Linked DNA regions of Homo sapiens: region 2 is linked to region 1. The links come from fine-mapping of genetic effects on gene expression. A gene starts in region 1. The other region holds a variant in brackets. All regions are shown on one strand. Distances are between the middles of the regions. Region 1 holds the start of SCOC (short coiled-coil protein). Region 2 holds the start of CLGN (calmegin).

What was found.
Region 2: its variant is fine-mapped to the expression of SCOC in whole blood (INTERVAL, PIP above 0.99).

The regions. Positions count from the first base shown.
Region 1 is chr4:140,364,575-140,380,675 of GRCh38, reverse strand. SCOC (short coiled-coil protein) reads right to left here and starts at 7,030. Exons shown (of 4, transcript NM_001153484.2): 1 at 6,959-7,030; 2 at 1,484-1,555; 3 at 1,024-1,107. The coding sequence starts at 1,505. SCOC-AS1 (SCOC antisense RNA 1) reads left to right here and starts at 7,284. Exons shown (of 5, transcript NR_033939.1): 1 at 7,284-7,413; 2 at 11,326-11,366. It also overlaps the pseudogene RPL14P3. RefSeq lists a silencer at 6,741-6,940 and enhancers at 7,101-7,150, 6,846-7,347.
Region 2 is chr4:140,422,543-140,438,643 of GRCh38, reverse strand. It overlaps CLGN (calmegin), which reads left to right and starts at 10,996. Exons shown (of 15, transcript NM_004362.3): 1 at 10,996-11,107. RefSeq lists an enhancer at 11,790-11,839. The variant C/T (reference allele first, on the strand shown) is at 7,784.

The DNA.
Region 1 (16,101 bases):
AACATAAAACTATAACATCTTTACTAGAAATGTTTAAGATATATATCAGGTTAACACAACTGAATTCATATACTGAATACAGGCAGTCAGTTTCCAAGCAACTTATCATCTTGTATTGTAACATTATCAAGACATTGAACACATGCAGTTCCTGATGATCACATAAGAGGTTAATTCCGGCTGGGCACGGTGGCTCGCACCTGTAATCCCAGCACTTTGGGAGGCCGAGGCGGGTGGATCATGAGGTCAGGAGTTTGAGACCAGCCTGGCCAACATAGTGAAACCCTATCTCTACTAAAAATACAAAAAAATTAGCTAGGCATGGTAGCAGGTGCCTGTAATCCCAGCTACTCGGGAGGCTGAGACAGGAGAATCGCTTGAACCTGGGAGGCAGAGGTTGCAGGGAGCCGAGGTTGCGCCATTGCACTCCAACCTGGGCAACAAGAGTGAACTCCATCTCAAAAAAAAAAAAAAAAAAAAAGAAAAAGAAAAAGAAAGCTAATAGGGAAGTCACAGATGACTTTTATTAACTCTGTAAAATGTAAATCAGTGGGAGGTTCTGAGTGACATGATCTGCTCACTGTGGCACCAAAAACACAACCTCTTAATTTCATTAAAACTCAAAAGATGTTTCAGTGTATTAATTTTATGCAAGATTTAGAAAATGAAAAAATTCAGATGAATTCCTTTTTAATCTCCAAGGCTAATACATTGTTTTTACTTTAAAATAAGCTTTATTAAAGCGGACTTAGTAACACATTATGGGGACTTAAAAGGGGGTCTCATACTAGCCAGCATTATGTTAGGCTTCAAAGAGGGAAGCACAATAACAACATTTGACTTGACTGAAGTGTATCTGTTCTTTAAACTACCAAAGCAGGAAGATAGATATATATATGTGTGTACTTTGAAGTTCATTCTTTTAAAAATTATACATCCTAACAAACAAAATTTAGCAATATAAATTTTTACAAGTTCAATTAATTGGCTGTCATTCAAATAAACTACAAAATGCAAGCCAACCTTCAAGTGTGTGTTGGAGTTCCAACACTTGATTAATAAGTCTTGTTTTTTCCTCCAGTTCCACTTGATTTTCAGCATCAACTGCTGTAATATAAAGGTTCAAATTTACTATTAATTAGCATTAGGTACATTTGTGTAGGGTAGCACTTAAAAATCTGCAAAATGTTTTATATTCATTCTTACTTGACTTATACAAGAGCCCTGTGAAATAAAATTTTGTATCCCCAAATTGCAGATAATACCACCAAGGTAAAGAAGATAAAAACAACTTGCCAACCTCTCATAGCTAAGGAATGGAAGCTGCTTTGGTTGGTCCTTTCTAACACTAGATGAGATATAAATAAGTAATTAGCCAAGATCAAAGTCTTCTAAACATGGTTTCTCTGCCCTTTCCATTGCTTAATAAAGCAAAAGCATCCACAAAACCAGGAGTATACAAAAAAGAAAATGAAGAACATACCATCCATGTCAGCATTCATCATCTTGGGTAACAAACTTTTGGGCCTTGGATACAAAATTCTTGAGGAATGGTCTACAATAAGAAAAATTCAGAAATATAGACACATACAGCAATAAACTATAAGCCTGTTTTTCAAAGGAGGATGATTTTGTTAACTATGACATAGTAGGACTTTTCATATGCTTTACTAAGAATAAAATAAATGCCTAATGGGTAAATAAGCAAAGGATATAAATAGTTTGAGAAAATGTTGAGCTTCTTGATAATCAAAAAATACATAAATACCACCGTACAGTTATTATTTTTAAAGGAGATAATGATCAATACTAGCAAAGAGTTATGGAAAAACAAATACACAAACACTGGACACAAATTTTAAATATGTAATCTTTTTGGAAAGCAGTATGATAATAAGATTCATAAAAACATTTACATCTTTTTTAACTGAGTATTTTACCTTGGAAATTTAGGCTAAGGACAATAATGCAAAGAAAGTTATATACATAAAAATCACTTCAATTTTATTTACAATGAAGTCAATCAGAAACAACATAACTGCCCACTCAAAGTCTGGTAAATTACAGTTGTGATTTTCTTTTTAAGAAGACATATTTTTATTTATTTATTTAGAAATGAGGGTCTTGCCAAGTTGCCCAGTCTGTATTAAACTCCTGGACCCAAGCAATCCTCTTTCCTCAGCCTCCTGAGTACAGTTATAATTTCTAATGGAGTGGCTACTGAAAATAATTATGACTATACTACATGAAAAAATGTGTATAAAATTGTATATTCACTGATGTAAATTATGTGAAATATATATAAATATGCATAAAAAACATGAAAATGAAAAAATGCTCTGATATTAAGGATGACGGTATGGATGAAGATAAAATTGTTTCAAATATTCTTCTTCATTAAAGTATTGCTTTACATATACTGTTTAATTTTTTACAAATAAAATTCAAAAGATAAATACTAGACCATCTAAAATATTAATATGGAATAAATGAAAAAATGTCCATTCATCAGCTCCTAGTCAGGGTTAAATCAAAACAGACTAATCAGGATGTAAATAAGTAAATAAATACTAACATTTTATTATTACAATGAAGACTTCTAAATATTAGAACAAAAAATTTCTATAAAACATGTTCTGCTCCATTGCTAACAATCATTTCATTCAATATGTTCAAAATATATTAAATAATGTCACCAGATTATTACTGAAAACAGATTTGTTAACCAATCTAATCTACTACATTGAAGCAACCTAGACCTGTCAGTGTTATTCTTTCAACAAGTATTTACTGAATATCTTCTATGCCCAAGGCATTGTTATGCCTCCGTATCTTAAACAGTAGAAAGCAGACCTATTAAATAAGGATATCTACATACTAGAACTAGAATCACAATAGAGATATCAGTGTATTACACATTCTCTCACAGCTGTTAATACAAATCTTGTTGTACTTCAGATACTAACATGAAATTTGAAAATGCCCAGTGTACATCTACATAAATCCTGTTACACTTTAGATACTAACATGAACTTCAAATTAAAATGCCCAGTGTACATATACATAAACTTCAAGTTTATAGTTCAAGTTAGATAGCACTCACTAGTCTAGAAAAAAATATGAAATATCCCTTGTATAACATTATTAAATAATTAACTACAAATGGTATACAATTAATTTAATAATGCTGAATAAACCTACTCCAAGTCTTCTAGCATCTGTCCCCTTATCTAAACCGCATTTAAAGTTGCTCTGCCCGACCTCTTTTTCACATTATTTAATTCTCAGGTTCTCTGCATTTCAGATTACTAAAATTTTTCCAACAATTCTTTTTTTAAAAGTTATTCAGCCTACTGTAGTATTTAAAGACCACACTCCAAAAACTATTCCTCTCCATTGAATCAACATGTCTCTTTAACTATAATTGAAGAGGAAGAGTGTCAGTGAAAACTTGATTTGACATTTCCCTGACAGAGAAGCACACCTGTAACCAGGTACTACAGTCATTCTCTTTTCATACCATTTCAACCACTGATCCAGCTAAAAGAGGTCTGAGTAAGATGAGAGAGGCAACAGCCAAAAGCAAAAGTGATCGTGGGAGTGCTCAGCAAGAGTAAGCTGCAATTTGGCATCTGTCTTTGCTAAATAATAAATTAAAAGTGCTTCAAATTTCTCATATCCAATGATTTTAAGGCTACAGCTAGAACGAATTTTCATGATAGCTAAGAAGAGTTATAAGATATACAAGCCAAAGCAACAGATAATCAGAAAATCGACACAGCTGATTTTGAAGTCAGATATAATACAGTGATAGGGTAGTCTTCTTTTGCTTATGTTTCAGACTAATATTTAAATTAAACCAAAAAGTCTGCAAAAACACAAGTATTCCAAACTCACCAATATAAGAGGTAAAGAAAAAGAAGCCAGTTTCTGAAATTCTGACCACATATAATTCAAACAATAGAAAACCTATGCATGGTTTAGCAACAGTGTGACTTCATCTGAAAAAGTGAAAGAAAATAAAAAGCAGAAAAACAGGGTGGAGAGGGCTTATTAAAGGAAAAATTACTCTTACACTCAAGATTAGGGTAGAGGCAGGAGCACAAAAGTAGTGCCACAAGAACAGTGCTATAAGGGTATACAACGCGAGAGAGCACAATTCACACCACAGTCTACGTAAGATTGCATCCCAAGTGTTGCACAGTGAAAAAACCGCCCACTGTATCTGGCAGCCCTACGCATAAGGGCATTACTCTTTAGTACAGTGGACCACAGCATTACCTGCTGCCTTTCCACGACAAAAGAACAAGAAGCAATTGTATTTTATTGTGATGTGATCAAATAGACCCATCTCAAAATGCTACTATTGTATTAATATATATTCAAAGTCTTTCAGTAGATTTAGGGCAATAAACTGATTTGTTTGACATATGGGATCAAAAGACTTGCTGAGTTCTTTATGTCAAAGTATTTTAGCCATGGATTTTTTCTTTTAAAATAGTATTGATCCCCAAACTGCCCAAAGTCTACATTAACACAGTACTACATCATAACAGATACTTAATACTGAGCTTTTCAAATTTTTCAACTATAAAATCCTTTTTTACCTATAGTTGCTATAACATCAATCTAATTCCATGTCAAATATGCTCTTAAGAGTTCACTTTCAACTCCTTCTGCTCCTATATATAAACGCAAATCTGATGAAAAACGAGAAAATTAAGACCAAGTCTGCTCAAGCGTGGGAACACTGAAATGAATTTGGGGCGCTGAGGCTGCTCTGCCTATCCTAAACCACCTTACCCCAGAAATGGACATGGTTCGCTGAGATTCTTCAGCTCTGATGTATGGCTAGGTCAGACCTTTCAAAGGTTTCTCAAAAAACACAGTAAATTCGGGTATCTAGCCTTGGTTAGTGGAAGGGAATCTAGAATTACTTTTTTGATTATTTAAGTCCAGGAGGCAGAACGCATAGAGAGAATACAAACCAGGAAATGTGGCAAACATTGGGACAAGATTCATTTAATTAAATAATTTTTGCCATGCACACACACCTGTGACCAAAGACGATCATCTTACCAAATATGCCCCTATCTTATTTTACAGTTATCTCTAATAGTGTACAATATCCACAATATCACTCTCCTCAAGAGGCAGCCTGGCACAATGATTAACAATATGGATTCAGATTACCTGGATTCAAATCCTAGCTCTGCAATTTATAAGCTCTGGAACCCTGGGCAAGGTTAACACCTCGGCCTTAAGTTTCCTCATTTGTAAAATGTGGATAATAACCGTACGTATCTCATGGGTTTGTTGTGAGAATGAGTGGATAGATACAATGTGTTGGCAACAGTACCTAGTACATAGTAGGTATTCAATAAATGTCTGCTATCGTCTTCTCTACCTTTTAGCTCTAATTTGGGCAACAGAAAGAATTTAAAGAAAACCATCTGGTCCAGCTGCTTCATTTTACAAAATCAAGGCCAAAGATGACAATGGCTTACTGAAGACCACAGAAGTAGTTAGCAACAGGGCCAAGACTACAACAAATGCCCAGTGTTTTTTCCACCATTCCACCACAACTATTGTCACATCTGAGCCTGCAGATTTTGAGACTTTTTCCTAATACCCGTCCATCTTCAGCCACTCAACTTTTCTGCATCTAAAATTGATTTCACCATCTGTCATACTGGAGAACTACTAAGACTGCTAAAATAATGTCTTCGTGCATTAATGTGCTAAATGCTTTGCATATGTTATTTCATCAAATCAACAGAAGGAAACTGCAATTTACAGATATGGACACTAAATTTCAGAAAGTCTATATATCTTTCAGAAAAGCTGTTTCAGAGGTTTCACAGCCAATGTCTCTACCAAGAATTTGAACCCAGGTCTAACTTCACAGTCCATGCTTTTTCCATTATGCAATGGAAAAAACTTTAATATGGCCCTAATCTTAAGTTTGCCAAACATTTTGCTACCACTGATGTCAAACTCCTCTGGAATCTTTACTAAGCAACTGAAAATAAACTCCATTCCCTTCAAGCTACGGAACTTCAATATAATGTCTGTTCAGATCTGTTCAAGTTCTGCTTTGACTTGTCCTGGTTAAATAAATCCAGTTTCAAATTCCACAAGATCAAGGAACTGTTTGGCCAAATGAGGATTTAAATGGAAGCTATACTCTCAGAGAATGGCTAGCTACACTGATTTTAATCAGGAATAGAGGTACCAGAATACATGGGCACAGCTTTGGGTCCTCGGGCATAGAAAACGTGTTGGCAACCTGGAATGGCATCTGTCCTTATTGTTGCGTAATAGTGTGAGGTTGACACACTGTATAACAGAAGCCCTGCCTTTCAGGAATGTATCCTCTTTCTCCTTTCCAAACCTTTCTTCCCAAAACTTGTTCAGCAGGACTCTGGGGGAGAAGACGATCAGGAAACAAACCCAGGTGCCGCTTTCGCCGCCTGGAAAAATGGTCCAATCCTTATTTTACGGCTCTCTAGGCTCCCTCCCCACCTCAGCCTCCCCTCCCATCTCTCAGGCTCTCGCAGAGCAGCCACGGGAAGGTCCAGGCGTGCCAGGTCCCATTCCACCCAAACGCCCCTCCCGCAGTCCAATTCCAGAGCCGAGAGCTGCAAAGCGGCTCCCGACCCAGGAGCTGCGGGGAGAAAGCTACACGATGTCTGCGTCAGGGACCGCGAGAGGTCCCTCTCCCAAAGAACGCCTGGGCCTGACAACGAAAACAGGAGAAAAAGAGGTCGCGCAAGGGTTCTGCCGGGAGCCAGGCCTCCGCCGCCCACCAAATGCCCAGGCCCGAGACCGCTCCTCCCGGGCCCCCGGTGCGCAGGGCCGCGTCCAGCCCGCCCCGCCCTCCAGGCCCTCGGAGGTACTGAGGATGCAGCTCTAGTCGCCTGGGGCCAGGCCCTCCGCTGCCCGGGACGGCCCTCACCTTCCGCTTGAGGCGCCGGGAGAAGGAGGGATCCGGCCGACACCTCAGGCCGGGACACTTGGACCAACTGACCCCGGCAGCTCCGCCCACTCCGCCCACAGAACGTGCGCCGTGAGAAGAATCCCATCCCGTCCCAGCCGCTCGCCCGCCAATCCTGACTCGAGAATACACGCCTGCGCATTAGCTGCCCGCCTCACCCCAGTCGTCCAATCTCAAAGCACCGGGATCCACCTTTGCCATAACAAAAGGACACTGACATCCAATCAGGATTGAGGTCGCTGTGGGCGGGACCTGGAACAGCGACAGCCAATGACAGTAAAGAAGCGAAGCTAAGCGGCGCTGGTGAAGCGGCTCATCAGGTCTATCAGGAAACCTGAGAATTGGAGTGAGAATCCCAGTGTGGAAAATCAGGAAAGAGGCTGGTATGAGCGACAGAGAAGTCATTCAGGAAAGAGGTTGGTATGAGCGACAGAGAAGTCATTCAAGTTCGAGAAAAGAGCGTTTGCGAACCAAGCAGAGAAAGTCAACGCGACACCGTCGTTCCTTAATTCTAAAAGCAGACTTTTTCATATTTTTCTTATTTCCGAAATCGGAAAGCTTATAGTTGAGCTAGTGGAATGTTCCTCTCCTCACGCCCCTCCTCCGAAACTATTATTAAATCTGTAGTGCGTGGCCATTTAATATTTTAGAATTGAGAAAATACCCTAGTGGTACTGAGGCATAGCACTTGTGCTTACCTTACCCCTGTGGAGCCTCACAGCAACCCACAGAAAGGAACTGAAGCCTGAGCGTGAACACATTTCTTGCTCAAGGTCACATATACGGTATCAAGAGTGGAGTGTTCTTCGTGACACCGTTCATCGTAATCTAGTACTTGACACAAAGCGGCATCCTGCTTTAATATTCGTTGAGTACAAGGTAGACATCCACAGCAATACATTATTATTTTGGCTTTGGCACAGCCTCCTAAGCTGTAGAGACAAGCCTTATGTCTCCCTGTTTCTTGACTTTTTACTTCTGGCACAGTTTGCTGACACATCGCCTTAATCATTTTAAGAGCTATATAAAAATATCTTCTATTCAGTGTTTTGAGAACTATGCATTTGGCTGCGACTGCAATATTCAGTTTGAGGAAATTTACTAGAATGCAATGTAGGAGCTAAATAAATGAAAAAAAATCCAACATAAATCTAATAGGAGTGCCAAAAAAGAGAGACTAGAGAGAATGGATGCAGGCAGTATTCAAAGAGTAATAACTAAGAATTTTCCAAGATTGTGGAATATTTGAATTTTCAGATTCAAGAAGTACTTATTCTTGAGCAGGATTAATATAAGAATTCTATGCAACGGTGAAATTGCAGGACACCAAAGATCAAGAGAAACTATTAAAAGCAACCTTTTGTTTTTGCTAGAACAGTATTTTTAAATATTTTTAATTGTAGTGAAATATACATAGAATAAAATTTACCATCTTAACCATTTTTAACTTCAGTAGTATAAGATACATTCCACATTGTTCTCCAACCAATCTCCAGAACCAATCTCTCTTTTCATCTTGCCAAACTAAAACTGTATACCTATTAAAGAGCAACTCTCCATTTCCTATTCCCCTCATCCTCTGGCAGTAATCATCTTACTTTGTGTTTATCAGTTTGACTACTCTAGGTACCTCACCTAAGTGGAATAATACAGAATTTGCCCTTTTATGACTGGCTTATTTCATTTAGCATAATGCCTCAGAGTTCATCCATGTTATAGCATATTGCAGAACTTCCTTTTTAAGGCTGAATAGTTCTATATATCATTTATTATGTGTATTATGCCACATTTTGTTTATTCATCTATCAGTGGACGCTTAGGTTGCTTCCTCCTTTTGGCTATTGTGAATAATACTGCTATGGACATGGGTGTGCAAATGTCTCTTTGAGACCCTCTTTTCAGTTCTTTTGGATATACACCCAGAAGTGTGTGTTAATTTGTGCTGAATCATATGGTAATTCTATTTTAAAGCAACTTTTAAAAAAGTGGTATTGACACAAGAATAGACAAAAAGAAAATTAGGAAAAAAAGGGTACCTGGAAGTTGGTATACAATAAAGATGTCTGGTGAGGAATAACTGTTTCTAAGGTTGTGGGGAAAAAACTATTATTCATTACTGTTGGGAGTGTAAATTAGTATAGTAACTGTTCGTGGGATATAGAAAACACAAGTTATGGTGGTTCTAGTTAAATTGGCTATTTATATAAAAATAAGAAATTCAATCCTGATACCACGACAGAAATAAAACTAAATTCCAAATGAAATAATGATCCAAAATGTGACAAACAAAACTCTAAACTTTTAGAAGAAAAGCGTATGTCTGTATATCGCCGTAGGGAAGAAACAGCACGATTCATTAAGGAAAGATGTAAAATATTGATTATTTTAAAATTTGGAAGTTTTACAAACAGAAGAGAAGCCATCTCTAATCAAGTTAAAAAACAAGCCACAGGTTGGCAGAATATAGTAAAACTCTCAAAATATAAAGAATTCAGGCCAGGCGCGGTGGCTCACGGCTGTAATCCCAGCACTTTGGGAGGTCGAGGCGGGTGGATCACGAGGTCAGGAGATTGAGACCATCCTGGCTAACACGGTGAAACCCCGTCTCTACTAAAAATACAAAAAATTAGCTGGGCGTGGTGGCGGGCGCCTGTAGTCCCAGCTACTCGGGAGGCTGAGGCAGGAGAGTGGCATGAACCCAGGAGGCAGAGCTTGCAGTGACATGGTGCCACTGCACTCCAGCCTGGGCGACAGGGTGAGACTCCGTCTCAAAAAAAAAAAAAAGAATTCAGACAAATCAGTAAGAAAAAGACAACTCAAGATAAATATATGCAAATAACGTAAGTAGGCCACTTACAGAAGAGGAAAACTGAACGGCCAGAAAGGTTTTTAAAAAATGTTTACCTTCACTAATAATTAGGTAAAATAACATTAAAACAATTAGATAAAGGGGCATATTCATCAAGAAGACACAAAATCCTAACCACAGTGCTACAAAATAGAAATGAATCAAAAATTAATTGAATTCAAACAGTTCATTACTCCCTGCTCTGCAATTTGTAAAACAACTATACAGATAATTTAAGTATACAGAACTCAGGTCCCAAACTTTTCAGTATATTAGAATCACCTGGGAATCTTTTAATTATTCTAGTGAACAGACCACACCTCAGAATAAATTACAGTCTTAAGGAGTGAGATACAGGCATTAGTATTTTTGAAAGTTACGAAGGTGATTTTGAAAAAAGGCTGGCAAATTTCTGAACTATTGATATAGAAGACCTGAACAATCCTATCAGCCAACTTGACCTAATGGACATTTGTAGAACATTGCACCCAATAACTGAAGAACATGCTTTCTTTTCCAATGCACTTGGAAAATTCATCAAAATAGACTCCACTGTGTATCATCAAACAAATCTCAGCAAATTTAAAATAATTGAAACAGTAAAAATTATTGTCTCTACCCACAAATTAAACTAGAAATCAGTAACAGAAAGATATTTGTAAATCTCCAAATAGTTGGAAATCAAACTATGTACTTCTAAACAAACCATGGGTCACAGGGGAAGTCACACACAAAAAAATTAGAAAGTAATTTTAAACTAAAATGTAAACATAAAAAGGCAGCTCTTGCATGACTCAGCTTTCAGCTTATTTTCAGCTTTCAGACTTGGGAGGCTGAAGCAGGAGAACTGCTTGAACCCAGGAGGTGGAGGTTGTAGTGAGCTGAGATGGCGCCATTGCACTCCAACCTGGACAACAAGAGCGAAACTCCATCTAAAAAAAAAAAAAAAAAAAAAAAAAAAAAAAAAAAAAAATCCCCCTTCTGAATAAGGAAAGGCTATAAGTACAAATAGAAACCACTGAGATTGCATAGAAATATTTGATTATAAGGTGAACATTCATGCGACCTGGACTATGTGAATATTGATAATATAGTTCATCTAAATAAAGGCACAAAATTACATTTTTTTTCCTAGAGAATGGGGGAAGTCCTAATTGAAAACTGTACAAGGCAATATATTATGTGGGGGAAGAAATGATAAATAATGAAATAGAGAACTTCCAATATCTTTTTGATGTTCCAGTCTGGCACACTCTCATTGTGCACATACAAGCTGCTATTTTGTCTTAATTAGAGGGTTCTAAACGTACTGTGGATATTTAAGGTGAAATATGCTAAATGGAAGCATTTTTGATAACTTTCAAGTATAACCAGGTGTGTTGTCTGATGCTTTAAGCTCATTAATTTGCAGAACATGTTCCATCTCATTCCTAAATAAGAACTCACATTTTCTTTTTTACTCATTTTTTTCACTTGAAAGGTTATTGAATTCATTGGAGAATGAATGCTGTTCTGAATTTGGTGAGTAAAGAATATAACCTATTTGTTAAAACTTGATTTCAAAACTAGACGTAATTGTATACTACAGCCTAGTATACTATACTCAACAGTATACCATATAGCTATTTGGTAAATTAAGGTGTTCATGTATACTTTCTCAAGATTATAATTTCTGATAATAACCAAAAGTAAATAAATTTGATGAGTCATTTTCATTTATTTGTTCAATAGGTAGAGGGAATGTAAGAAATTACCAATGTACTTTTAGAGTTTTTTCAAGCAAGAATTCCAAAGGATTTCAAGGTCTTTATGGAATCAAGCTTTGGACTTTATCATAAAAATGGAAATAATTAGGAATGATTCTGTGCAGTCTCGGTGCTGTGAAAGGAGAATAAAAACGTGAGACTCCAGTTCACTCTGCCAGAAGGAAAAAAATAAGCTGAAAGCTGAGTCATGCAAGAAGCTGCCTTTTCTTCTGTTCCTAAGCAGATAGCTACAGATAAAAGGTTAAATATCTCCATAGGTAGCTACTCTATGTTCACCCTATTTCATGTAAAGTGCTGATTTGCTGCACACAAGATGAATGCATCATTCACCATTCCCCTACCTGCGCCTTTTCTCCTGCAACTTAGATTACTATACCCTCGCTCTTACCTCTCCAACCCACTTTTCCCCTTTAAATACTGAAGCTCTCAAAGTCATCCTTGGATAAAGGAACAGACCAGAGACTGTTTCTGTGATTCTGTGTTCTTTTCTTCCAGGTATGTCCTTAACCTTGGCAAAATCAACTTCTAAATTGAATGAGACCTGTCTGAGATACTTTTTGGTTTACAGTCCTTATTTTTCTCTAGATAGTATTTTCAAATTAGCATTTCCCCCAGAATTGGTATTTATACCTCTGGTTGTACAAGATGAATTTTTAAAAATAATTACATGTTTATTTTATTATAATAAATACGAATAATACAAGAAATTCTCAATTCACAGATGTTAACATGTTGCTTAGAATAAAGCTAAGTTCAAAACTGATTTTAATTAAATGGTTAATTTAATGTGGCAAAAATTATGATGTAGGTATATGATTGGTTCAGAAAACTCTGATCTACCAACAACGTGACAAGCATTGGTTTGAAGAAGAAGAAACCTGGGTTCTTGTTCTGGCTCAGCCTAGATTGAATTCATTCCATTCTTTGCTCATTTAAAAGTTTAGTTTTGTGACTATATCGTGAGCTAGATACTGTACAGCATTCAAATATTTGAAATTAACCATGAGACTGCAGGGAGTTAGTCACTTTCCTGTCCACCCCTGTTTCCTCAAGTGAGGGCTTGGAAGAGAGTTCATTTAGCTTCTTAACATGGTGTAAAATAACATTAAGAACTTTATCAAACAACACTACCAGTGAGTTAAGTGAATGGTTCCCTATATTTAAGAGTCAATCTTTGCTGGTAAGATTGTGTCTGACCATCCAGCTTTTGGCACCCTGCCTGCCACAGGTTCTCAAAGCATATTTTCTGAGTGAGTTGTCATTGAGCCACCTCATTCCAGCTTTTGTGATTTTGTGATTCTGTGATTCTCTAAACACGAATCTACATTTTCAATCATGTCAGCTGGGTACTTGCTCACTAAAATTTTATAAAAATAATCTGGCTTTAGACTGGGCACAGTGGCTCACATCTGTAATCCCAGAACTTTGGGAGGCTGAGGCAGGTGGATCATGAGGTCAGGAGATCAAGACCATTCTGGCCAACATGGTGAAACCCCGTCTCTACTAAAAATACAAAAATTAGCCAGGCATGGCAGCACACACCTGTAGTCCCAGCTACTCGGGAGGCTGAGGCAGGAGAACTGCCTGAACCTGGGAGGCAGAGGCTGCAGTTAGCTAAGATCACGCCACTGCACTCCAGCCTGGGCAACACAGCAAGACTCCATCTCAAAAAAAAAATAATCTGGCTTTAAAATCAAGATTAATCATATGTGTCTGGGTCACTAAAGGAGATTCTGTTTTTAACAAGCATAAAGTAATTCTCTGAAGAGCATAGAAGTCAGGGTTACAGTGATAACTAATATTTTTATTTATTTATTTATTTATTTATGAGAAATGGTCTTACTCTGTCACCCAGGCTGGTGTGTAGGGTCTTGCTCTGTTGCCCAGGCTGGAGTGCAGTGGTGCGATTTTGGCTGACTGCAACCTGCACCTCCCAGGTTCAAGTGATTCTCCTCCTCAGCCTCCCGAGCAACTGGAATTACAGGTGCCTGCCATGACACCCGGCTAATTTTTGTATTTTTAGTAGAGATGAGGTTTCACTATGTTGGTCAAGCTAGTCTCAAACTCCTGACCTCAAGCGATCCACCCACCTGGGCCTCCCAAAGTGCTGGGATTACATGCGTGAGCCACCACGCCTGGTCAATAACTAATATTTTATAAAAGAATGCACCTGGCCTTCTTCCTTCTTGCCAAACGCCACCAACATGGTGTTCAGGCGCTTCGTGGAGGTTGGCCGTGTGGGCTACATCCCCTCTGGACCTCGTGCCAGAAAATTGGTTGCAACTGTAGATGTTATTGATCAAAACAGGGCTTTGGTTGATGGACCTTGCACTCAAGTGAGGAGACAGACCATGCCTTTCAAGTGCATGCAGCTCACTGATTTCAACCTCAAGTTTCCACACAGAGCCCACCAGAAGTATGTCAGACAAGCCTGGCAGAAGGCAAACATCAATACAAAATGGGCAGCCACACGATGGGCCAAGAAGATTGAAGCCAGAGAAAGGAAAGCCAAGATGACAGATTTTGATCATTTTAAAGTTATGAAGGCAATGAGGAACAGAATAATCAAGAATGAAGTTAAGAAGCTTCAAAAGGCAGCTCTCCAAAAGCTTCTCCCAAAAAAGCACCTGCTGCGAAGCGTGCTACTGCTGCTGCAGCTGCTGCTAAAGTTCTAGCAAAAAGATGACCGCTGCAGGCAAGAAGGCTCCAGCTTAGAAGCTTCCTGCCCAGAAAGCCACAGGCCAGAAGGCAGCGCCTCCTCCAAAAGCTCAGAAGGGTCAAAAAGCTCCAGCCCAGAAAGCACCTGCTCCAAAAGCGTTTGGCAAGAAAGAGGTGATTAGAAAAGTAATAAAAGTTCTATTTGGGAAAAAAAAAAAAAAAAGAAAGAAAGAAAAGGAGGCACCCAAGATTGCAAGCAAGGCTCTAAAATGCTAGGCTGCTCATGGATTTTTAAAATTGCATTATACAAACATGATCTTTACAGTTTTCTGTTTCCCTGGTAACCATTTATGATAAAAATAATCAACTTGTTAGAGTTCCTCTGTCAGCTTTTGTCAGGATCTGGGATGTTACCCTACAGTTGACCCTTGAATAATGTGGGGCTTAGGAGGTGCCAATACCCTGTGTAATGGAAAATCCATGTATAACTTTTGACTCCCCCAAAGTATAATTGCTAATAACCTATGTTGACTGGAAGCACTACCAATAACATAAACAGTCAATTAACACATATTTTGTATATATGTTGTATTCTTACAATAAAGTAAGCTAGAGAAAAGAAAATGTTATTAAGAAAGTAAGAAGGAAGAGAAAATATATTTACATTACGTGGAAGTGGGTCATCATGAAAGTCTTCATCTTCTTCATTTTCACATTGAACAAGCTGAGGAGAAGGAGGAAGAGAAGGGGTTGGTCTTCCTGTCCCAGAGGCAACAGAGGCAGAAGAGATGGAGGAGAAAAAGGGAGGAAGGAGAGTCAGACACTCAGTGAAACTTTATGAAAATACATTGTAATTTCTGTCTGACTTTTTGCTCCTTTTCATTTCTCTTAGAATGTTTCTATATGGTAACACCTTTCTTCCACTGCTTTGGTTTCAGTGCCTTTATCAAAGAAGTTTCAGTGCCTGTATCATAGAAGCCATGCCATTCTTTTTGTCCAAGAAGTCAAAAGCAGTCTTGAATAACTGGAACCCTTCTGCCAGATTGTCTAATGTCAATTTTTCTGGCACTGCCTCTTCTATGTCTTCTTTCTCATCATGTGGCACTGGTTTGAAAGCACCAATCTCCACCATGTCTTCTTCTGTTAATTCCTCTGCTGTGGTATCTGTTAGCTCTTACATTTCTCCAAGATCCAGATCTTGAAACCCTTCACTTTTCACTTTTTTTTTTTTTTTGCCATATCCATATCTTTCATGATTTCTTTGATTGGCTCTGTGGTAAATCCTGTGAAGTCATGCACAATATCTGGATAGTTTTCTTCAGCAGGAATTTATTATTTCAATCTTGATGACCTTCACAACTTTTTTTTATAACAACGATGACATCTTCAATGGTGTAATCATTCCAGACTGTCATGATGCTCTCTCTATCAGAATTCTCTTCCATGGCATTGACAGTCCTTTCCATTGAGTACCCTGTGTAATAAGGCTTAAGGGTTCTTAAGAGCCAAGGATCTAGAAGCTGAATTAAAGACATTGTGTTTGGGGGCAAGTAGACCACATTGACAGCTTCAGTTTTGACCTCATGGGGTTCTGGGTGGCCAGAGGCACTGTCCAATATCAGAAAAAAATTTAAAGGTAGTCCCTATGGGCAAGGTAATTCCTGACTTCAGGGACAAAGCATTGATGGAAACAATCCAGAAAAAGGGTTCTCATTGTCTGGGCCTTCTTGTTGTACAGCCATTAAGACTGGCAGCTGATGTTTTTCTTTTCCCTTCAAGGCTCAGGGATGAGCAGCTTTATAGATAAGGGCAGTCCTGATCATAACCCCCCT
Region 2 (16,101 bases), 58 kb before region 1:
CAGGTTAACAACCTGTTTAGCTCACTTTCTGAGCTAAAACACTAAGACTAGAAGCAAGAGTAGGACTTGGCTGATTTAATGATAGCCGCAAACAAGGAAGGTGAGGAGCGGAGGGAAGCAGAAAGTAAAGCAGGGTCTCAGTGTAAAAGGCAAAAATGTCCTCATGAAAGTTTCTTAGGGAAAAGCTTTTTCTTGATGCTTGCTTTTACCTCTGTGTGCCAATTACATTAGATCTAGTGGTATTTTAAAAAGCCTTGTAACTGGTCTTCAATGAGAAGAACCGTATGTGATGGCATTGTTGTACTTACCACTAGAGAGGAAGCCTAGTGGAAAGCTTCATCTTTCCTTCCTCCAGTTTCTTGTCAATGCCTTTCATTGGCTGACCCCACAGAAACCATTAATGCCATCCATAAAGGCCACCTGCATGGGTCACAGAGCAAAGTGGAAGAGGATAGAGACTACATCTAGTGGGGCAAACAGAAAATATTTAGCATATTTCACCCCCTTTGTTAGCATATATTCTTGTTCATATATCTTGCCTTGGTGAAAAATGTATTCACACAAAATCCCCAGTAACATATCATTATGAGGTGATGCCAAGTCAGTTATACTCTTACCTGAAACCTAAAATCTTAGCTACCACCTGTGCTTCCACATAAGTAGCAAAGGAAAAAAAGGAAGCCAAAGGAAACAGATCACGAGACCCATTCTGAGGTTTGTGATGAGTCCTGGGTTGATTTTCAAACTTCCTTCTTTGATAATTCTTTTATGGTCCTCTTACCCTCTCCTGATAGTTGAATGGAAGGGGTTGTATGAAAATTGGTGTGACTCAACTTTTCTTCCTGTAGAATTTGGGTCCTTGGTGGATGTATCTTCCATTGATCAATACAGTTGAGTAAGGACTTACTAAGAAGTGCTAGGTTTTAGATACAGTTCTCTATTGCCCCCATTTTGTAACAGAAACCTATTTTCTCCTTGGTAATCAAGATCAATCACACTGTATACTAACCTTTCCTGCCTACTGGTTAAGCAGTACAGACTGTTAAGAAACAGCCACACATTCTAATTTAATGGAACTATGATTGTTCCCTCCTCAAAGCATTCCTCCCTGGGGCACTGGGACATTCAAACCCATTGAACTGAAAGTCTTGAGGATAAGAACAAAAATTGTGTTCAGGAGAGGATTTGTTGTAATGAGAGTGGCCACTTCCCCCTCACCCTTGTTTCCTACATTGGTCACCAGATTAAGACATAGTAAATCCAGTAGATCAGCACCCCAATCTCCCAGATGTTATTTTCACGAGGAGCTACAACTGAGTCTTCCAAAAGCCATTCCATCACTCTAACAAGGCAACTTCTTTTGGGTGATGTGGTACATAGTCAGACTAGTGAATCCATGGGGGTAAGACCATTATTGCACTTCCTTCTCATAATATGTATTTCTTGTTGGAAGCCGTATTGTGTGGGCTACCATGGCAATGGATGAGATATTCTGTAAGTTCATAAATGGTAGCTCTGGCAGAAAGGGAATAGACAAATCCACAACCAGAATGTGTATTTCTCCTCTGAGGACAAATAGCTGCTTTTTCCATCATGAAAGCATTCCAGATCCTCAAAATACTGCTAGACATCTGCCTGATCCCCATAAAAGATAATTCCAGCAAGACTTCCACACTGGCCTCTGCTGTTGACAGATTGAGAATTCAGTTACACTGGTAGCTAGATCACCCTCATGAATTAAAGCCCATTTTATTAAATCCATGCATGGCCTCAACACCTGCCTCCATGACCACTTTGTATATGGGGCCTTTGAGCTTGCATTTTTGGCCAGAAAAGGGGGCTGACGTGGATATTCTTATCCATCTGGATTTTGAGAACCTCCTCTGCAGTGGATACCTGTAGGGGGGCTTTATGTGGAACATACATATCTTCACACTCTGTGCCCACTCCAAGAAACCCATCCACAAACCTCTCTTACAACCTGCCTCGCGATCAGCATGTCATTCTTGTTCTTTCTACATCCCGGGTCAGCTAGCCTATCTGCTAGTCCACATATTATGAAGATCTATATTAAGGCTATCTTTCTTTCCACATGAGTGGACAACCAGAAATTCTGCCCACTGGAATGATTTCAGCTCACCCCTGCTTTTCTAGGACTTCCCTGAGTGGGGCTGTAATGTAGCAACTGTCCACTTCTCACTGCTACAAATATAGCAGGGCAGATCCATCCAGAAACCAGGTGGTACTTTTTCCTTCATTGTTAACTGGTCATAGAGGCCTCTTCATCAGGCCATAGATGCAGAGTGAGAGAGAAACAATAAGGAACCGTGTGAATCTGAGCCATCAGCATATGCAGTTTTGTTATGCTTCCTACACATGATCACATCTGTCCAATTTTGTGACTTGGTGAATCAGATTACCTCAATTCAGGTCACTTCATGTCTTATGGGCAGGCATTCAGTGTTTATGAAGATCCAGTAGTACACCAGGAGTTGCTTTTCAAGTGGAGAATTGTTGTCAGCAGAAGAGAGCATCTCTTACTGCAAAATCCTAGTGGTATGTTCTGTGATCCTCTTATTAGAACTTAACAGAAATTCCTCACCATGTCTTTATCAGCCATTGACACTTCTAATGCCACTGAATCTCCTGAGTCATAAGGCCCAAGTACAGGGACACTCTTTCTGTAGTCTGAACCTGTGGCAAGTTACAGGCCCCACTCAAATATGGAAGTTTTACAGATACCCAGGAAATGTGTCCTAGCAATCTGTCCAAATGTGGTGTATGTTATATCCCAAATCTGAGTAGGCCTGCCAGGTGTTGTGTCTCTTTCTTTTTGGGGGGTGGCCCAGGGTACAGCAACTTGTTTCTCACGAGGTGATATCTTGTCATAGCCCTCACTCCATGGAGCAGGGAACAAACACGGGGGATTCTGTTAGTTACTGCATATATTTAGCCCTATTACATATTCTGGAACTAGAGAAATACTACAGGTAGGGGGCTGTGACTTCACTGGACTCCTTTGGCATAGGGACTTAGGCCAAGACTCCATCTAGCATGTGACCTCCATAAATTCACAATCTGAACATAAGTACATGACGGTGCTTGGAGTCTTTAGGAATTAGTGTCAGTTCAGAAACAGTACTTTAAAAACTCTAGAAGGTCTGGATATTTCCCTTCAGCTAGTGCATAGTCACCCTGGTTGCTCTGGGGAAAATTTGGGGAAAGAATCATAATATACATGACTATTGATGCTGTAAGCTCCTTCCTCAAGAAAACAGCCTTCCCTTAGTACAAACGTGCGTCCAGTAACTTTGAATATCTCATTGAATGAATGGTTTTCTGGAAAAAATATTTAAAATTATATAGCAGAAAGTGGAAAATCTGAGTAAATGAATAATAACTCAGGAAAATTCAATGAACCAATCCACCAAAACATTAATGCCCATAAAGTTATAATAAACTTTTCAAAATCTCAAAAAACAATATAAAATTTCATACTATATAAATGATTCCAGGGCATGAGAGAATTCTTAAAACTTCCTAATTCATTGTATAAAATAAACTTAATTCTGTTATCAGATTCAGGCAAGAAAAATTATAGACTATCTCAATTATGCATACATATGTAAAAAGGCTAAAGAAACTTCATAAATAGAACTGAGAAACAAAATAATGGAATAATCAGTTATGAAAAGGTTAGTGTCTTATTCTTTTTGGCTGCTATAACAAAATGGCGTAGACTAGGTGGCTTCTAAACTACAGAAATTTATTTCTCACAGTTCTGGAGGCTGGGATGTTCAAGATCAAGGTGCTGGTAGATTTGGTGTCTGGTGAGGGATTGCCTCCTCAAAGATGGCACCTTCTCACTGTGTCTTCACATGATGACAGGGGCAGAGAGTTCCTGGGGCCTTACCCTTATGACTTTATCACCCCCTATAGTCCCGGCCTCCTAATACCAGACTGTGGGGGTTAGGATTTCAACATATGAATTTTGAAGCAACATAAACATTCAGACCATTGAAGTTGTCTTTATTCCCCAAATGCAAGATTGTTTCATATTCAGGAAATTTATGTATTAATAATCTCAACATGGGTTGAAAAGGCATGTACTGGAATTCAACATTCATTTCTAACTATTAAAAACTACTGAAAAATAAAAACAGGAAATTCATTTCACACAAAGAACAGTATTATACTATGATAATTTTTAATGTTATTTATTTAATTGTACAATTAATGCATAAATACATCTTTGTTATTAAAAAAAACTATTACCAACCAGGCAAAAGTTCTACCTGACAACCAACCAAAATCCCAGTCCTTTTCCCAGAAATTATTTCTGATTTCAATTTGGCGTGAATACTACTGTATATTTTCCTATGCATTTACATACATATGTACTTATTAGAATATATGGTATTGCTTTGGATTTTTAAAAGCCTTTGGTTAAAATGCCAGTTGATTTTTCACTCAATATTTGTTACTTAATTTTTTCTGTGTCACCAACATGGATCTAATTCTTTCTTTTTAACATCAACACAATATTCTAAAATATGAATAGAGCATAATTTATTTAGCATTTCCTCCTCTGATGCAGAAATTGATCCATTACTATTTAAATATTTTTTTCAGTGTTACAACAGTGTTTCAATGTACATTCTTCTGGGTGCCTACTTGAGCATAGAGTCTTTTTCCTAGTTTAAATAATCAGTAGTGGTACTGCTGACTCAAAAGGTATGAATATTTTTTATTTTAACAGATACTGCCAAATTGCCACCAGAAATAGCCATATCAACATATATCCCCAAGAGTAGTGTTTGAAAGCAGCAGTTTTCCCAAGTCTTGCCCTTTGCTATTAGTGAGCTTTGAAATTGTTGCCAGTCTAGTGAAAGCAGTATTTTGTTATAGTCTTAGTTTGCCTTTCTCAAATTACAAGTAGGGTTTAAATTTTCTCACATATTTATATCTTTCCTGATTTTTTATTTGAGATGGAGTCTCGCTGTGTCGCCCAGGCTAGAGTGCAGTGGCACAATCTCGGCTCACCGCAAGCTCCGCATCCCAGGTTCACGCCATTCTCCTGCCTCAGCCTCCCGAGTAGCTGGGACTACAGGCGCCCGCCACCATGCCCAGCTAATTTTTTTTTCTATTTTTAGTAGAGATGGAGTTTCACCATGTTAGCCAAGATGGTCTCGATCTCCTGATCTCGTGATCTGCCCGCCTCGGCCTCCCAATCCTGATTTTTTTAATGAGCTATTTGTCTTCTTCTTCTTCATTTAAATATGAGGTTCTTAAAACACATACAGGAACCTAATTAAACTCCTAAACTAAATATTAATAGTTTGTCATAGGCTAAAATTACTTTTCTCAGAAAGTCTTTTGTCTTAAACTTATTTTGTATTGTCTTTTGACATACAAAATTTTCAACTTTGAGATAGCCAAATATATTAATAATTTCTTTTATGACTTTTTCACTTTTCGTATTGTTTAAAACAACCTACCTACCCACATCAAGCATATAGTCCCATATATTATATTATAAAACTTCTATAATTTTTAAAGTTTAGGTCTCTATTTCCATTAAAATAGTGTGTGTGTGTGTGTGTGTGTGTGTGTGTAATGGTAGAAAATCCAACTCTAAATCTTTCCACCCCAAATGTAGAGCCAGATGGCCCCACTGATTTATATATTTATTAGTCCATTTTCATGCTGCTGATAAAGACATACCTAAGACTGGGCAATTTACAATAGAAAGAGGTTTAATGGACTTACAGTTCCACATCGCTGGAGAGATCTCAAAATCATGGCAGAAGGTTAAAGTCACACCTCACATGGTGGCAGACAAGAGAAGAGAGCTTGTGCAGGAAAATTCCTGTTTTTTTTAAACCATCAGATCTCATGAGAGTTATTCACTATCACAAGAACAGCATGGGAAAGACCCACCCCCATGATTCAATTATCTCCCACCAGGTTCCTCCCATGAGACTTGGGAACTGTGGGAGTTACAATTCAAGATGAGATTTAGGTGGGGACACAGCCAAACCATATCATTCTGCCCTGTCCCCTCCAAAATCTGATGTCCTCACATTTCAAAACCAATCATCCCTTTCCAATAGTCCCTCAAAGTCTTAACTCATTTCAACATTAACTCAAAAGTCTGCAGTCCAAAGTCTCATCTGAGACAAGGCAAGTCCCTTCCACCTATGAGCCTGTAAAATCAAAAGCAAGTTAGTTACTTCCTAGATACAATGGGAGTACAGGCATTGGGTAAATACAGCCACTACAAATGGGAGAAATTGGCCAAAACAAAGGGGCTACAAGCCCCATGCAAGTCTGAAATCCAGCAGGGCAGTCAAATCTTAAAGCTCTCCTTTGACTCCATGTCTCACATCCAGGTCACGCTGATGCAAGAGGTAGGTTCCCACGGTCTTGGGCAGCTGCACCCCTGTGGCTTTGCAAAGTATAGCCTCTCTCCCAGTTGCTTTCACAGGCTGGTGTTGAGTGTCTGCAGCTTTTCCTGGTGCACAGCGCAAGCTGTCAGTGGATCTACCATTCTGGGGTCTGGAGGATGGTGGCCCTCTTCTGACAGTTCCACTAGGTGGTGCCCCACAAGGACTCTGTGTGGGGGGCTCTGACCCCACATTTCCCTTCAGCACTGCCCTAGCAGAGCTTCTCCATGAGACCCCCGCCCCTGCAGCAAACTTCCACCTGGGCATCCAGGCGTTTCCATACATCCTATGAAATCTAGGTAGAGGTTCCTAAACCTTAATTCTCAACTTCTGGGTACCCACAGGCTCACCACCTGGAAGCTGCCAAGGCTTGGGGCTTCCACCCTCTGAAGCAGCAGCCTGAGCTGTACGTTGACCCCTTTTAGCCATGGCTGGAGCAGCTGGAACACAGAGTACCAAGTCCCTAGGCTGCACAGAGCAGAGGAGCCCTGGGCCCAGCCCACAAAACTGTCTTTTCCTCCTAGGTCTCTGGACCTGTGATGAGAGTGGCTGACATGAAGACCTCTGACATGCCGTGGAGACATTTTCCCATTGTCGTGTGGATTAACATTTGGCTTCTTGTTACTTATGAAAATTTCTGCAGTGGAGATTTTCATTTCTATCACATTGTCAGGCTGCAAATTTTCAAACCTTTTATTTTCTGTTTCCCTTTTAAAACGGAGTGCCTCTAATAGCACCCAAGTCACCTCTTGAGTGCTTTGCTGCTTAGAAATTTTTTACACCATATATCCTAAATCATCTCCCTCAAGTTCAAAGTTCCACAAATATCTAAGACGGGGCAAAATGCAGCCAGTCTCTTTTTTTATATATGCTGTGTGGTATGGATTGAAAAATGTACTTATTACATGTGAATATTCAATTGTACCACCACAATTTGTTGAAAAGACTAGGCTTTCTCTACCAACTGCATGTGTACCTATGTTGAAAACCAGTTCCCCACACTGTCTTATTCTGTTTTGTGTTGCTATAACAGAACACCTGGGAATGGGTAATTTATAAAGAAAAGAGATTTATTTAACTCACAGTCTGGCTAGCTGGGAAGTTCAAGGACATGGCTCTGGCTTGTGGTGAGGCTTTTGTGCTAGGCCAAAAGATGGCAGAGAAGGTCAAAGGGGAAGCAGACGCATGCAAAGAGGGAAAACCTGAGGGGCACCCAGCTTTATAACAACCCATTCTCATGGGAATGAATCCAGTCTCGTCAGAGCAAGAACTCACTCACTACTGCAATGGCATCAAGCCACCTACGAGGACAGGACCTTCATGACCCAAATACCTCC[C/T]ATTAGGCCCCACTTTCCAGCACTGCCACACTGGGGACCAAATTTCAACATGAGTTTTGGTTGGGACAAACCAACCATATCCAGGCCATAATACATACACATGTAAGTCTATATAGAATCTATTCTGTTCCATTGATTTGTTTGCCTTGATACTAATACTCTTTGATAACTCTTTGATAACTATAGCTGTATATCATTCTATAAATCCTAAAGTCGGGTAGTGTTTCTGAGGGGGGTTATCTTGAGACACAAGAAAAAAACTCAGCATGGGCTCATTCTGCCAACTATATAGTTTAACCAGACGAATTCTGGGAAAAACAATGATGACTATTGTCATTACTATTATTTACTATTGTTTGATATTTTTGTTAAAGTAATAAGGAAAAAAACCTCAGAAAATAAGTATAAATATAAGAAAGAAAAGATCATTTTCTGCCATAGACATAATTATACATCTTGAAAATAAAAGTCAACCCACTGGAAATACTTGTGGAATACTTTGTTTCCTTTTCTCTATTTTCTGCACCATTAAAAAGCACATTCCTAAACATATGAAAATATACAAACATTTTTAAAGTATTATTTGAATTATCTAGGTTCTGAGTCCACTCATTGTATTTGAGTTAAAACTTCATTCTGCATAGCTCTTTAATCCTGATAATCGAGGCATTTCCTATATTCTGCATTTTTCAAGTGGCAAGGTGTTGTGGAAAGGGCACAGGCTTTGAATCCTCACTCTGCATCTTAAGATCTGTGTGAATAAGTTATGTAACTGATCTGGGTCTATTTCCTCATAAGTAAAATAAGGATGATACCTGTGGGTCAATTGCATATAGCAACTTGCACATAGTAGAACATTAATAAAACACAGCTCTGATTTTGATTACAAAACAGGCTTCCAACAGGACATCACTCTGTTCCATCAAGGAGCATGAACCTTTCTGCTTTTTTTTTTTTTTTTTTTTTTTTTTTTTTTTGACACAATGTCTCACTCTGCCATCCAAGCTGGAGTGCAGTGGCACTATCTGGGCTCACTGCAACCTCTGCCTCCTGGGCTCATCCCACCTCAGCTTCCTCCCACCTCAGCTTCCCAGGTAGCTAGGACTACAGGCATGCACCACCATGCCCAGTTAAATTTTTTGTATTTTTTTGTAGAGATGGGGTTTCATCATGTTTCCCAGGCTGGTCTCAGGCAGCTCGGCTCAAGTGATCTACCTGCCTCAGCCTCTCAAAGAGCTGGGATTACATGCATGAGCCACCATGCCAGGTCACCTTTCCTGCTTTTTATGTTTTTCTAGATTTCTGATTACTCTAGTCCCTCCAATCTTGATTACATTGCCTTGGTCTCTTCCCAAATCTCTCTTCAACTTTGATGTGTCAGAACACTTCACGACTCTACCATTCAGCATTACATTCTGGGACTCCTCCGCTTGTATTATTAAACACTACATCACTCTCAAAAGCCATACCCCTTGTCTTATTTGCAGATTATTCTTTCTCCTCTGACATTATCACATTGTATTATTCTGATGAAAAGTTGCCTATTAAACAAATTATAAATATTATATTCAATCATCCTTTCAATAAGTGGCAAATAATTTTGGAGATATGTTAAGGCCTTAAATTTCAAGGTTAGAGATTAGATTTCATGCTGTGGGTAATGAAGGGTCATTGGAAACTATTGAATGAGCTGAGGATTAAACTACGAAGTGTAGGTGGGAGGCTCTGAAGGGGGGCAACTAGTTAGGTAACTCTGAACAACAGTTTCTAAAGTAGTGAGAATCTAAACTAGAGAAATGGCACAGGGACTGGAGGGGGTGAGGACCTCTTTTAGATGATTTTATGGAGTTAGAGTTTAATTTATGGAGGCAGTGAATGTAGCAGCCAAAGAGTAAAAAAATGTTCTCAAGGTTTTGAGTACTATGTGACCAAGAAGATACTACTAAATCTTGCAAAAATTCACTATTCTTACATTTTTAGTTTTCAGCTTCCTCACTGCAAACTTTGAATGGATCCTTTAAAAAATCCCTCTCTAGCAGTTCAAGTGTATTTGTTATGGGCCACAGAAGTATGTTGAATAATAGAAGTCAGAAGGACGGAAGAAAGAAATAAAGGGTATAATATTGTTACAAAGTATCTCAAACAAAATGTCTTTTTAACCAGTAAATTTTAACACTATCCAAACACTCTCCCAGAGATGACAAAGTCAAAAGTTTAGAAATGCTGGTCTTAATTAGTGAAGCAATGTGAAAAAACTCAGTGATCTTGACCCCTAGCCAATAATGATACGTTGTGCACGGAATGCCACCAAACCCTTAAGATTGAAACTCTTCAACAAGGGTCTTAGACTCACAAGTCAATTAAATGTTGTTAATTAATCTTCCAATAAAATTAAATTGTTATACCAAATTCAAAGTCAAGATTTACTATAAAATATTAAGTAGTAAAATTAATATTGATCCAATATATAAAAGGCAAAGCAGCTTGTGATTGCATAATCATAGCATAAACTACGTTTATGCTAAGATTTATTTCAATGTGTTTGAAACTACAGGCTCTGAGAGAGACAGGCCTGATTTACATCCCGTTTCCACTGTTTACATGTTGTGTAACTTCGAGCAAGTTGCCATCAGTTTCATCACCTGGGTTGCCACGAAGGTTAAACAATGAATGTAAGCCCCTTAGAGCACAATGAACACAATAAATGTTAGCAGCTCTTATTAATAGTGTTGTTCGAGAGAAAAAGAACATATTGTTTTATATACAATGTATTTATTAACACTTAACGCATCTGTATTTGTCATATACACACACCAGACAGGAAAGCTCCTTATTAATCACCATGACTGCAGATCTGTTAACATCTAGAACTCTGGAGAAAACCTAGAGCCCTAATCTTGCTGCACTTATTACTGGACGTTGTTCATAAATATGATTTACATAAAATTCAGGACCCAATCATTGCGCAACAGGAGGTAGCACGGTCTGCAGAGAGGGCGGGAGCTCAGAGGAGGAAAAGTCTTCGGACTTGCAGGGGGAATTCCTCCTGGGCTAACCCGGGAGCGGGGTCCAGGCCACAACCGGCCGGCGGCGGCACAGGCTCCATGTGCGGCTCCCCCTGGAGGCGGTTGAGCCCCTCGGAGCAGGAGCGCGTAGCACACACCTCGGGCCGCCACCGCCTCCCGCCCGCCACCGCACGCGCACGCGCGGTTAGTAGTCGCTGCTGCGCGGCCGCCGGCGGGACTGGTCTGAAGAGACGCGGGGACCAAGTGGCAACGACTTGGACATCTGAGCTGTCACTGCCGAAAACAGGCCGCAAGAGAGGTGCGTGAGCAGCAGGCCGCGTTCCCGCTGTCCCGCTGCCCTTTGCGCGCAGATTGGGGTGAGGAAGCGGAGTCGTTGCTGCTTCCCCCAGGCACCCCGTTACTTTGCCGCCAGAGGGCTGAACCGGTCGGGGCCAAGTGAGGGTGGATGTTGAGTCTGGCGATGGGGCTGCAGCGAGCTAGGGTCTTGACTGGGCTCTGGCGGCCCCGTGGGTGGACGCAGGAGGTGGTGCCACCTGGGACCCTTTGTGTCTTCAGCACCGCCGCATCCACCTGCTGCGCCCGGGCTGGGGCGGACGAGCACGGGGACAGCTAGGTGCCTAGCCCGGCCGGCCTCCCCTGCGGGCTTGAGGAGCCACCGGGAGCCGAGGCCGTTATTCCAGCGGTTGCCATTGCAGCCCCGTTCCACGCTTGAGCCCGGGGCGCTCTCCCAATGGTTGTAGAGGGGGCCCGGGGCGCGTCTGGGCGCTGCTCACTCTGCTGACTGCTCCTTACAGAAACCCAAACGAGATCAAAATAGGCTCGGCTGTCTCAGTCTCCACCTATGTGGAAGCGAAGGGACCCCACTTCACGGCGGTGGGGCCAGGGACTGTTGGCCGCTCCCTCGATACCCGCGCAGAGCCCATTGTGCGCCGCCGGGGGGCGGGCGAAAGGGCTGGGTTGAATCCAGAGAGGCCCTAATTACTAGACTCATTATCGCCCCAGGCCTGTTTACCATCAATCAGACACTTTCGCTGATTTTATTTATAGCATCTGCCCAAGCAACAAAGAGGAGGTGTTTGCTTGGGAGTTAAAAGCAAATGGCAACCAAAGCTCAGGACTGGGAGAGAAAAGGTAAATAACGTGGCCACAGGAAGAAGTCTCAAATTAGAAAAGAGTTCATTAACGTATAAACTTTTTGTTGCTTAAAAGCAGGCAAAATCCCGATCTCATCTGATGATTTTGCTTGTTTTACAAATGTCGACATCACTCGAGGTAGCCCTCCTTTGGGTCATTGTAAGTTTGACCTGTTTTCAGTTTGGAGTTTTGCCTTCACGTCTTATTGGTTTGATCTTCCAGTAACATTTAGATCTCATCTCCAAATCCTCAGAACAAGATATTCTGTACTCTCTGTCTTAGCTAGTTGATAAGGTTAATTATTGTGTGTAAATGATGTAAGTATGTTGATGCATTTGTCTAGAAATTGAAGTGTTGTAAGTTAGCTGTAGTACTTTTTAAGTACCTAATAAATACTGGTGTTTTTAAATAGAAAACTAGAATTATGAACTTTAAAGAATCTTTGGATTGTCTAGTTCACGTCACAAATGAGAAAACAGGCCCACAGCAGTTTTTATCACTTGTCTTTTTAATAATAAAACTAGAAACTTGGTGCGATTGTGCCATGTTGGGTGTACTTTTTATTATATCATTCTACATTGCATTCCTGAAGCCACATGACAACTAAAACTTTAAGTAATAGGTGATTGTCAAACACCACTTCTGGAATATACCAGTGTTGGTCGGATCCTCAGTCAGCCATTAAAACTGAATAACAGCAGAAAGGCATCGCAGTTATAAGAAATAGCATGTACAAAAAGTGTGTTAAATAGGTGTGTTGAGAGTGAAAGAAGGCCCGGCGCGGTGGCTCACGCTTGTAATCCCAGCACTTTGGGAGGCCGAGGCGGGCGGATCACCTGAGGTTAGGAGTTGGAGACCAGCCTGACCAATATGGTGAAACCCCGTCTCTACTAAAAATACAAAAATTAGCCGGGCATAGTGGCGCGCGCCTATAATCCCAGCTACTCGGGAGGCTGAGACAGGAGAATCGCTTGAACCAAGGAGGCAGAGGTTGCAGTGAGCCGAGATTGTGCCACTGCACTCCAGCCTGGGTGACAGAGCAAGACTCCATCTCAAAAAAAAAAAAAAAAAAAAAAAAGGAATTACAAAAATGTGTCACAGAAACATAAAGTGACTATAGTGTTGGAAAAATGGCAGCTGTAGACTTGTTCAATGCAGTGTTGCCAGAAACCTTCAATTTGTGAAAAATGCAATAAATCAACGTGCAGTAAAATGAGGTATGCCTGTATGTACACACACACACACACACACACACACACACACACACACACCCTATTGATTCTGCTTCTCTGATGAACTCTGACTAATAAAATGACTCTCCTCCAAGTAATGATTCAGGGATTCTGCAACTTCCTACCTTGGAATTTTGCCGTTTTCAACCATGACCTTCAAAATTGCTTGCATCAAACCAGAAGGGGAAAGATCATAAAGAATTATAATTCATAATTATAGGAAGTTTTTATGGGCAAGGGCTGACAATGGCATACAGGTCTTCTATTTACATTCTGTTGGCTGGAACCAGGTAATGGTCACATCTAGTGCCAAGGAAATTACCCTTGTGATCAGCCAGCAACTTCTCCCACACTATACAACACATATTGCATATCCTGTGATTGTCTTTTCTTTGTGTGCCTTACTTACCTTTGATGTGACAGTGAGCATTACTTCAATACCAGTACATGAGCTGCACTTTATAATTTGTAATTTGGGGGTGGTAGTGGAGATCCAGTAGGGTTTTTAGGAGATATTGGTGTAATTATTTAAAGTAGACCAGACTACTTGATCTAGATTTCAAAGATTGGGAAGAATGGTATCTCATTCATGGATAAAGTTACTTGTGCTTCAATTTGTTATTGAACTACCACAGAAGCAGTGCAGAGAACATACATGAGATCAAAGATACGTGTTGGTGCAGAAGGATGTAGTTCTTCAGTGCCTCCCTTCTTATGAAGGCACAACTGATATTTAGTGATCTCAGCAAGCCTCATGGAGTGAGGAATACATAAGAAGCTTGGAACCCTGGGCATGCTACCTTTTAATTTATAAGGAGGGAAGAGGGTGACATTAGCACTAAATGTTCTACCCTATACCATATAAACAAATTCTTGCTGTACTAAAATTATATAACTTAAACAACCATACAGATCAATAAAGAAATAGATAACACCACAAGCCAACTAAACATAATAAACATATGGACAACACTGTACCCAACAATAGCAGAACACACATTTTTCTTAACTGCACATAGAACATTCTCCAGGATAGACCATATTAGACCACAAAACAAGTCTTAATGAATTTTAAAAGATTGAAATCATACAAAGTAAGTTTTCTGAACACAAAGGAAAGGAACTAGAAATCAATAGTAGAAGGAAAACAAGAAAAATTCACAAATATGTGGAAATTAAACAGCACACTCTTGAACAATGAGCCAAATAAGTCTCAAGAAAAGTTAGAAAAACATCTTGAGACAAATGAAAAGGAGAACAAAAGATACCAAAACTTATGGGATACAGTGAAAGCAGTGTTAAAAGGGAAATTTATAGCTTTAAGCACTTACATGAAAAACAAAAGATCTCAAGTTAACAACCTAACTTACACCTTGAGGAACTAGAAAAAGAGCAAATGAAACCCAAAAGTTAGAAGAAAGAGGGAAATAATAAAGATTAGAGCAGAGAGAAACAAAATAGAAAATAGAAAAACAAGAGAGAAAACAAGTGAAATCAAGAGTTAATTCTTCGAAAAGGTCAACAAAAAAATTAACAAACCTTTAGTTAGATTAAGAAAAATGAGAGAAGACTCAAATAACTAAAATTGGTAATGAAAGGACATTACATCTGATTCTACAGAAATAAGAGGGATTATAAGAGAATACGCTGAAGGATTGTATGGCAACAAATTGGATAACCTAGATTAAATGGATACATTCTTAGAAACACACACTCTATCAAGATTAATCATGAAGAAGTAGAAAATCTGAACAGACCTGTAACTGGTAAGGAGATTGAATCAGTAAACAAAAACTTCCCAGCAGATAAAAGCCCAGGACTAGGTGGCTTCACTGGTGAGTTCTACCAAACATTGAAAGAATTAACACCAGTCCTCCTCAAATTCTTCCGAAATATTGAAGAGGAGTAAACACTTCCAGATTCATTCTATGAAGCCAGCATAACCCTGTTATCAAAGCCAAAGACACTACAAGAAAACTACAGAGCAATATTCCAGATGATTATTGATGCAGAAATTCTTAACAAAATACTTGACAACAAAATTCAGCTGCATATTAAAAGAGTTATATACTATGACCATGTTGGATTTATTCCTAAAATTCAAGGATGATTCAACATAAGAAAATCAGTGTACCATGCCACATTTACAATGTAGGGAGGGGAGAACACATGATCATCTTTATTCATGCAGAAAAAGCATTTGACATGATTCAACACTCTTTCATAATAAAAAACACTCAGTACACTAGGAATAGAAGGAAACCACCTCAACATAGTAAAGGTCATATATGAAAAGCCCACAGTTAACATCAGACTAAATGGTGAAAGACTGAAAGCTTTTCCTTTAAGATCTAGAATAAGACAAGGATGCCTGCTTTTTCCACTTCTCCCGAGCCAGAGAAATTAGGGAAGAAAAAGAAAGAAAAAAGACATTCAAATTGAAAAGGAAGAAGTAAAATTATCTCAGCAGATAACATGATCTTATATGTATGTACAAAACCCTAAAGATTTCACGAACACAATACAAAAGTCTGTTAGAAATAATAAATGAAGGCCAGGCATGGTGGCTCATGCCTGTAGTCCCAGCAATTTTGGAGGCCAAGGTAGCCAGATCAGTTGAGTCTAGGAGTTTAAGACCAGCCTGCGCAACATGGCAAAAACCATCTCTACAGAAAAATACAGAACATTAGCTGGGCATGGTGATGCTTGCCTGTAGTCCCAGCTACTCGAGAGGCTGAAGTGGAGGATCACCTGAGTCCAGGAGTTCAAGGCTGCAATGGGCCATGATGGTGCCACTGCACTCCAGCCTGGGTAACAGAGTGAGATCCCATCTCAAAAAACAAACAAATGAATTCACTAAAGTTGCAGGGTAAAAAAACTAGCACACAAAAATTAGTTGCACTTCTGTATACTAACAATGAACAGG